Linked DNA regions of Homo sapiens: region 1 is linked to region 2. The links come from fine-mapping of genetic effects on gene expression. Tissue or cell type: whole blood. Region 2 holds a variant in brackets; the other region holds the start of a gene. All regions are shown on one strand. Distances are between the middles of the regions. Region 1 holds the start of PCMTD2 (protein-L-isoaspartate (D-aspartate) O-methyltransferase domain containing 2). Region 2 overlaps MYT1 (myelin transcription factor 1).

What was found.
Region 1: PCMTD2 starts here. The variant in region 2 is fine-mapped to the expression of PCMTD2 in whole blood (TOPMed, PIP 0.99).

What each region holds. Positions count from the first base shown.
Region 1 is chr20:64,253,666-64,258,054 of GRCh38, forward strand. PCMTD2 (protein-L-isoaspartate (D-aspartate) O-methyltransferase domain containing 2) reads left to right here and starts at 2,083. Exons shown (of 6, transcript NM_018257.3): 1 at 2,083-2,205.
Region 2 is chr20:64,227,412-64,231,800 of GRCh38, forward strand. MYT1 (myelin transcription factor 1) reads left to right here. Exons shown (of 23, transcript NM_004535.3): 17 at 4-66; 18 at 477-560. Among named protein-coding and RNA genes, the nearest start is that of PCMTD2, 26 kb to the right of the region's middle. The variant C/T (reference allele first, on the strand shown) is at 1,741.

The DNA of each region.
Region 1 (4,389 bases), 26 kb after region 2:
TAGCCAGGTTAAACATTAAAAGCTGATTGAGCCAATGCCCTTATACAAAGGTTGGAATGTAACAAAGAGCCCACCAAGAGTTTTGCCTAGGCTCTTCCTGGGCCTTGAAGCATGACAAGATAACGAAGGAACTCTTAACAGGACCCTTTTTAGGATTAAACAAGTTGTATTAGGGATCTGAAGAAACTCCCCAGGCCTCCACAAACAAGTTTATGGGGGTCTAAAGGAATTCCCCATATCATTATGATTTAGCAGGAGACAAGATAAGGGTAATCACCCCAGCACCTAGACCCATTTAGATTAAGTAAACTTACTGAGGCTCCAGAAGAGGGTCTTCAGGACTCAACCTTAGTCATAGATTAAAAGAAGTTAATCACTTATGTCTGTAGATGAATGCACACTTACATGTAGACATACAGCTTAGAAGGTATACGAGCTTTGGAAAACTTTGTAATTTTGAGTTGGTATGGTGATAATTTCCAGGCCTTCTCCTTGTAACCGGTTACAGAAATAAAACCTCTCTTACTCTCCAGCTCATTTGCATCTTGTTATTGGGCCAGGAGAAGTAGTAGCCCGACCCTCAGTTGGGTCCAGGAACAAAGGGAGTGTCTGAAGACAGCAGTGATGTGATCACCTGTTTTAGGAGGACCACTCGCCAGAGCCCAGGGGAATGGTGGGAGGGGTGGGGAGAGGTGAGGGGAGCTGGGACAGGGCAAGGAGGGATGTATGGAGGACGTGTCCCCTGGCAGTAGGAAGAGAGTCAAGGATGACTCCAGGGCTTCTGTAATTTGAAACAGTCACAAATAACCACAAGCTCTCAGGTGGAAGGACACTGAGAGCCCCATGAAGGTCATGAGGTGGTGGGCCACCTCAGGTCCGTGGATCCAGGACCATGGATCAACAAGAGAAGTGAGGTCTCCCTGGGACCACATAACGTGGTGAAGGCACCGGCCTTTGGTTTTCAAACTCTGCTCCTAAGTGGAGCTCCAGGGTCTGGGGAGGAATGCCGAGTTAGGAGGGAGGCGGGAACCGGAGACCCAGGCCCACTCGTCCGCCCCAGCGACGCTGGCACTTGCACATATGAGGCGGCTTGCATGGCTGTGCTTGAAGAAAGGGTTCTGCAGCTACAGCCTATCTGCAAAGCCCCACGCGAAGTTTGGGCAATGGGCTGTGTGAACCCAGAAAATGGGAGACAGGTCTCAGTTAATTTACAAAGTTTATTTTGCCAAGGGTGAGGACGCGCCCGTGACACAGCCTCAGGAAGTCCTGACATGTGCCCAAGGTGGTCGGGGCACAGCTTGGTTTTATACATTTAGGGAGACAGGATACATCCATCGATACATGTAAGAAGCACATCGGTTCGGTCTGGAAAGACGGGACAACTTGAAGCAAAGGCAGGAAGACTCCAAGCGGGGAGGGAGCGTCCAGGCCACAGATAGGTGAGACACCAACGGTTAAATTCTTTTGAGTTTCTCATTTGCCTTTTCAAAGGAGGCAAATCAGATATGTATCTATCTAAGTGAGCAGAGGAGTGACTTTGAATGGAATGGGAAGCAGGCCTGCCCTAAGCAGTTTCCTGCTGGAGTTTTCCTTAGTGATCTTGGGGGCCCAGGATATCTTCCTTTCACAGCTGATTTCACAAAGCCGGCTGGGTAGGAGGGCCCCAGGGCCGGGTGGCCGTCCGCGTGGCAGGGCGGGGGTCCCAGGGCGGCTGTGCTTGGTGCTGGGAGGCCGCCCGAGGGCAGCGCCGGCCCCGAGTCAGCAGCCGCAGGGCACCCTGGAGATGCGGAACGCCCCCAGCCGTGGGTCAGCAAAGGCGTCTCAGGTGACCCTTAGGGAGGGCTTCTGAGGCAGCCCGTGCGGGGTCCGTCCTGGCTGAGCACTGCGCGGACGGCGCGCCCGCGAGACTCGGACCCGGCCTAGGGCTCAGCGAGCTCTCAGCGGGGCGGGCGGACGCAGGCAGCCCAGGGGAGTGGGGCCCGCCCTGCGCCGCCATCACCCCTTTAAGTGCCAGGCCCGCGGCGCATGCGCAGTCAGGCCGTTGTGCGCAGGCGCAGAGGCGGCGGCGGCGGCGGCGGCGGCGGATGTTTACGGCGGCCGAGGTTGGAGCGGCGCTGCTCGGCCGCGGACACACGAGGGACGCGCCCGAGGAGCTGCAGGTGGCAGCCCAGGCGGTCCGAACCCGTCGGCCGGCCGAGCCTGGAGGTAGAGCCGCCGCCGCCGCCGCCGCCCCTCGGTCCGGCCTGCGGCGAGCGGGTGGTGTGTCCCCTCGGCCCCTTCCCTCCTCCTTCCCCACCCCCGGCACCCCTGCGCCCGGAGCTCTCCTCTGGGGGCGTCGCTCCTCCCCACCTCGGGCACCCTCACCTCCCCCCAGCGGCCTCCAGGGCGTCCCGCGTTTCTCTCTCCGAGCGCTCGCGGTTTCCCGTCGGTCTCTCCCGGTGCCCGTTGCTCACTCACACTCTTGGGTCTGGTTAGTCCAGACCTGCAGCTTGTCTTTGACTTCCCAAGTGGGAAACGTTTGCAGTTCCAAGGCAAGCCAAGAGCTAAGGTTTAGAACAAAGTCTGCCTTGGACCCTTTCAGAAGATGACAGGATTTTTTAAAAAAATAATTGCGCCCCCCCGCCCCGTGCCTTGGAGATAGTAAGAATTGGAGCAGAGCACTGGGACTTCAATTCACGCATGGAAAGAGATCTTTGTTAGTTGGAGGAAGGAGAACTTGCCTGAGCTTCGGGCCTTTGTTTTGTTTTTGTGAGAGGGACGTGTCTCCTAAATGAATGTTTGCTCCAGCGTTGCACCTCAAATAAGTCACCTAAATATCCACGCCCTCTTTATCCACCCCCTCTTTACTCGTGTGACTAGAATAGTTTTCATTTTTCTTCTCAAGGGAATGGCTAAACAGCTCCTATCTGGGCGTTTGATAGACTGTCATTCAAGAATGAGTGAAGTTGAGGTGCCTATAAGCAACTCAGAAATTGTTGTGGCCACGCTTGGGGGAAATAGAGCCCTACACTCAGGTGATGAGAGGAGACCTCAGAGGTGACCGATCCAGGGCCTTGCTCCCTGCGCCACCCCAGCTCGTACCTCCAGTGGAACTTGGCTGGGCTTATCAAGAGCTCCTTTCATTCATTGCAACTTCATTTGTTAGAAAGCTTCTCTGTGTATTTAGTAGGCATTGTCTCCAACATGTACCACTGGTCTGGCTTTTGTTAGGCCCATTAATAGTGTACATGTGACAGCCTTTCAAGTATAGGTGCTCCCCGGCTTACGGTGGGGTCGCATCCCAGTAAACACATCGTTAAACCTGAAGTCGAACCATCCGAAGTCGGAGACCATCTGTATTTGAAAAAAGTCCCTTTGCATTGCTTGTAAGAGTTCTGGTTTTCAAGGTGAGAAATCTGTTTGTGTGTTTGTTTGATCATTCTGCCCAAAGGAGATGTGGCTTTGGGTCCTTTTCCCCACTCATCTTCCACAATGAATTACTTTGTCCATATTACCCTAAAGAAGTGACATCCAAGTTGGAATGTGATCTTCCGTATGTCGCCTCCCAAAACCCCACTACCATAGCTTCATGCTTGTGTTGACACAGCCACAATCACAACTCAGGTGTCAGTTCTGAGACCTTCCCATGCCTGTCGCCACTCAGCAAGTGTTCTTCATGTGCCCTGGCAGTTCGCATTGTAAGGAGCAGCCAGGTTGTTATGGACTGTTGCTAGTTACCACAGAGTAGTGAATTATATTAAGGATTAATTACAGCAGACAATGTGCACAGTATCATCGAGTGCAGCGTTCTAAAAATGATTCTACACTTTTACTTTGAAAAATTGGATTTGACCAGATTGTAGAATCTGGGTGAAAATGATAGGATTTGGTTTGGCGAAGAGCTTTGTTGTCGGTGTTTTTGGTGACATCATGACTGATCATATCGATGGTTTTCAGTGCGAGGGAGTGTTAGATTACCAGACAAAGATGGTAATAAATATCAGACCCCACAGCTATTCACATGGATCCTACCAGTGGCAATAGGTATAGATAGGGTTACCCCATCGTCAAAAGGTTACCGGTGTGTTGTGTGGTAAAGAACGTTGCTGTCTTGAGTATTTTTAAAAGCTGCACTGGTGTGGTATTAAAAACACAGGCCTTTTGCCATACAGTCCTGGGTTTGAATGCAGCCCCCTCCTCACAAACTGGCTATGTGATCATGAACAAATTAACCGGCCAGCTCCAATTTGCTTCTTAATGTTGTGAAGTGTAAATGAGGCCATGACTGGCAGGTGGTACCTGGAAAAAGGTGCTTGTTTTTACTAAAAAGCTGTCTGAACTTTCAAATTAAGGCAGAGTTCAAAATAAGTGATAGTTACTTAGTGGAAAATGAAACCTATCCAACATACA
Region 2 (4,389 bases):
CAGGTGCCCCACGCCCGGCTGTGACGGCTCTGGCCACATCACAGGGAACTACGCTTCACACCGGAGGTGAGCCTGCCACACCCTCAGGTCCTGGGCCCCAGGGGTGGGCAGGGAGTCTCTTCCTTATATGAAGATTAGAAGACACTAATGTTGCTGACAGCTAGAGTCCATTCCCATCTCTTTAATCTGAATTGTTGCCATTTCCAGAACCTGATTAAGTTGTCCTCTGCAGTAAGATAAAAAGACAAGGGGTCAGGGCTAGGGGCTCGTGGTAATGCTTCTCCTTCCCGACCCTGCTGCCTCGTGTGAAGGCTGTGTCTGTGGATTCTGCTTCTTACAACTGACCCATCGGTTGCCCTCACTCCCTCCCACCCCACCCTGGGGTCACAGAGCTTGAGGGGAGAGGGTGAGATGAACGGGTGTGAGAAGCTGCGGTTCCAGCACTAAGGTGGCCTTTTTTCCTCTTTCGAAATCAGCTTGTCCGGCTGCCCTCGTGCAAAGAAAAGTGGAGTCAAGGTGGCACCCACCAAGGACGACAAGGAGGACCCCGAGCTGATGAAGTACGTTGGGCCATGCTGGCTCTTTCATTGCATTGCGGAATTGAGATTTTCGTGTGTTTTATAATGTAAAAAAACTCCTACTAGATTCCCTTTTCATTAATACAACGGGTCACCTAACTGACCAACGCCAACTTTCGTTTCTTTCATTTTTATGGAAGCTCTCATACGCTACACGTTGATACCTGTGAAGATAGGAGCCCTGGATGTCGCGTGGAGGGCATGGGTGCCAGATTTTCTGGGCTTTTCAGGTCTGGAGTATTTGACGGGGCTGGGAGAGGCAGAGCACCCTTCTACCTATGTCTTAGGGCCACCTGGGAGTGGGCCCCAGGGCCTTGCAACCTGCAGAATTTGTCTGGCAGGAAAGGTGAGATGCAGGAGTCAAGGAGGAGAAGGTGGTTAGAACAATGTTGAAGCTCCAAATCCCATGTGTCCATCCACCCACACACCTGTGCAGAGAGCTGGTAGATTGAGAGAGCCAGGAGGATCTAAACTGGGAGCCAGACACTGTTGGGTGAAGGAAAGAGGACATCTTGGGCCTTAAGTGACCCAAGTCCTTGAGGAGAAAAGATTCTCCTCTATTGCTCTTCTCACTGGGGCAGGGTGGGGGCTCGTGTGTCTTTGTGGGGCTTATAGGTGAACCCTGACTCTGTGTGTTATCCTACTTGGTGGGGGTTTGTGTCCTTACAAGCTTATTCTCCCAATAGGGAACGGGTCCCCTGCACTGCCCACTTTTAGGTGGGGGGAATGCTTTGCTACAGACTCAGACCAGGTGACCCACTGGCCATTTTGCCCAGGACCGAGGTACTTTCAGAGCTGACATCTGGCAAAATGGGCAGTGGGTTCCCCAGCAGGTGAGCAGAGTGGAAATGATGGCTCTGGACACCTTGTTGCCCAGGGTTAGGGGCCGGCTCGGTCGGGACGGGGCCCTACTATGCCCGCAGGAAGCAGGTTGCCCTCGTTGTGTTACCTGCTGGGCCAAGAGCAGCCAGACCTCACGCCCGGGGAGGGGCAACTTGGCCTGAGATTGGGTTGCTCCTCCTGGTAGTTTGCTCCAGCTGTGCCCAAACACCCGGCCACACTGGAGGAGCCTAATTGACCAACATCACATCCTTCAGACGGGGATGGGCCCACCAGCTGTTTGGTGTAATAGGCTGTGGCTTGTTTATTTATTTAATTTTTA[C/T]AATAAAACTGTAATGAATGCTAAATTAACAATGCAAAATTTTGGTTGTTAGTACTATGAAGGTCGCACACTAAATGCTGAGGTGGATAAAAAGCATTTTGCCCCTGAGAATCCAGGAATTTGCCTATGATCATATAAGTGCAACACCTTTATGGATTTGGCAAGGATCCTGCTGGCAGGGATATTATAAGTGAATCGTGCTGCATTTGCAAATGATTAAAATCAAGATCAGCATTTTTCAAATTAACCAGGAAAAATGGTTTTCCTTTCTAATGTGCTGTCAACTGAGCTTTAAAAAAAAACAAGAGTTCTGCAGCCGAGTGGAGACTGTGACTTTCAGAAACACTTCAGCATTTGCAGGATAGAGGAAGGTCCTAGAGGCTCCATGGCAGAGGGAACCTGACTACTGAACCCTCCGTTTTACAGGGTTCCTTCCCAGCCATAAACTTTAACTGCACTTGTAATTGCCTAGCATATTTAAACAGATGCATATCAAAGCAGAAACTGGAATGGATGTGTCAGGTCATGCTGAGGGATGGGATTTCGTCAGCATGCATGAGCTGTGATTTGGGGAGCCTGGTGGAACAGGAGTCCTTTTTATGATATCTCCTGCCTGCGCTATTTAAAATTAAGTCACATCAGGCGCTTGGTGGTAAATCCCTTTGCCACAGCTTTATAACTGGTCATAAAAGTCTTGCGGAGGTTCCAGCATGGGAGTCAAGAGGTGAATGCTCCCCTTGCCCTGCCCACTGTCCCTGGAGGGGACTTCTGGTCCTGGCCATGTTTCTCATGTCACTGGCACACACGGCTTCTGCCCCCCAACACGTGATAGGAAACACTAGCTCACCCAAGAAGCACAGAGGCCTCACCAGCTCAGTGCCTGCCCCCACCGCCCCAGCACCTCTCAACATGATGTCCCTGACAGCTTGAAAGTCTCCACACCAGGTTTTGTGAGAAAGAGAACATACCTGAAATCTGAAATCCTCTCCATGTATGCGATTCAAGGGAACAAAAACAGTTTCCCTTGATGAAGGGGAGTAGTGTTTTGCAAGAAAGGGAGTGAAAATAACTCAGATTTGGGCCGGGCACTGTGGCTCATGCCTGTAATCCCAGCACTTTAGGAGGCTGAGGCGGGTGGATCACCTGAGGTCAGGAGTTCGAGACCAGCCCGGCCAACATGGTGAAACCTCATCTCTACTAAAAATACAAAAATCAGCCGGGCGTGGTGGCGGGCGCCTGTAATCCCAGCTACTCGGGAGGCTGAGGCAGGAGAATCGCTTGAAGCCGGGAGGCGGAGGTTGCAGTGAGCCAAGATTGTGCCACTGCACTCCGGCCTGGGCAACAAGAGCGAGACTCCATCTCAAAAATACTACTACTACTACTAATAATAATTCAGATTCGACTGTGTAGAGTAGCTGAAGAGCCAGCCACCCCCCATTTGGCCACAGAGCCTCTTCCCAGCCAGTCTGTGCCTGGTGCAGGTGTCCCCCAGGGTCCCATGGCTGGGCCATCCCCATCAGAGGGGGGCTGGACATTGAATGTGAACTTCCCAAAGCTCCCATAGGGGCCCCTGGCAGTGTCTCTGCTCTGGACGGGGATGAGGTGACCTCGGACTGGCTCAGGGAATGTCCTAAAAGTTTCTGAGGGCCAGGTGGGTGGGATGAGTAACAAAGGGAAAAGAACCAAGAGAGGGGCCTGTGGAGAGAGAGAAAGCAGGGTCCTGGCCGAGTTGGCTGGGAAGGGTCTGAAACGGCAGCTTCAGAGACGAGGCCAGAGTGTGGGGGCAAGGAGCCGGACGCTGCCCTCCCTGTCCAGGCCTTGTTGACCTTCCACTGGGCAGCGCAGCCCTGAGCCGCCTCTCACCCCTACGGCGGGAGCCTCTGCCCCCGCCCCCGCCCCCTGCTACCGTCCTCCCGAGCGCTTCCTGCGCTGACAGTGACTTCCCTGTATGCCCATGAATCTCCTCGTAAATGGAGCCATGGTGACCTCTCGGGGTCTTGTGTTGCCAGGTAATCAGCACACAGGGAGTGTGTGACAAACGGTAATTTGGATGAGTTTCATTTATGAAGAGATAAGAATGAGCCTTGCAGATTGAAGATCTTGTCCTGGGTTTGGCGTGGGTTCCTGGATGACGTGGTCCCTCAGCTCCCCAAGTCCTGGTCCAGGTCCTTCCCTGAGGCAGTGGGGACAGACACTCAGAGAGGTCATGGGCCTGGGCCCTCTGCGCTGTCCTGTTTGTCTCTGACCCACACTGAGCCCAAGGCATTTGCCAATCTGAATTTATGTTATTTTCATAAGGGCCTCTATCCCTCTCCTGGAACACCCAGAACGAAGGAAAGGAAAACACCATTTAAGGCCAGCCTCAGGCACGAGTGATTATGGGTAGCGAGTCTCCCCCACATGAGGTCTGCGTTCTTCCTTCTAGAACATAGATCTCAGTGGTGGCAAAGCTGCAACATCTATGGGCATTGCCCCCTGATTGCACTGGCCTCAGTCTGGGAGGCTGTGGGGTGACAGGCCTCTGCTGTCCCTGAGCTCCCCTGCTTAGGGGACCTTGTCATTCTTTTGTGATCCATAGGCCCCCAGGCCTATGCTTGATGCAAGCTCCCAGGGAGTGGCCTCTAGGTGGTCTCAGCTGACAACATGGCT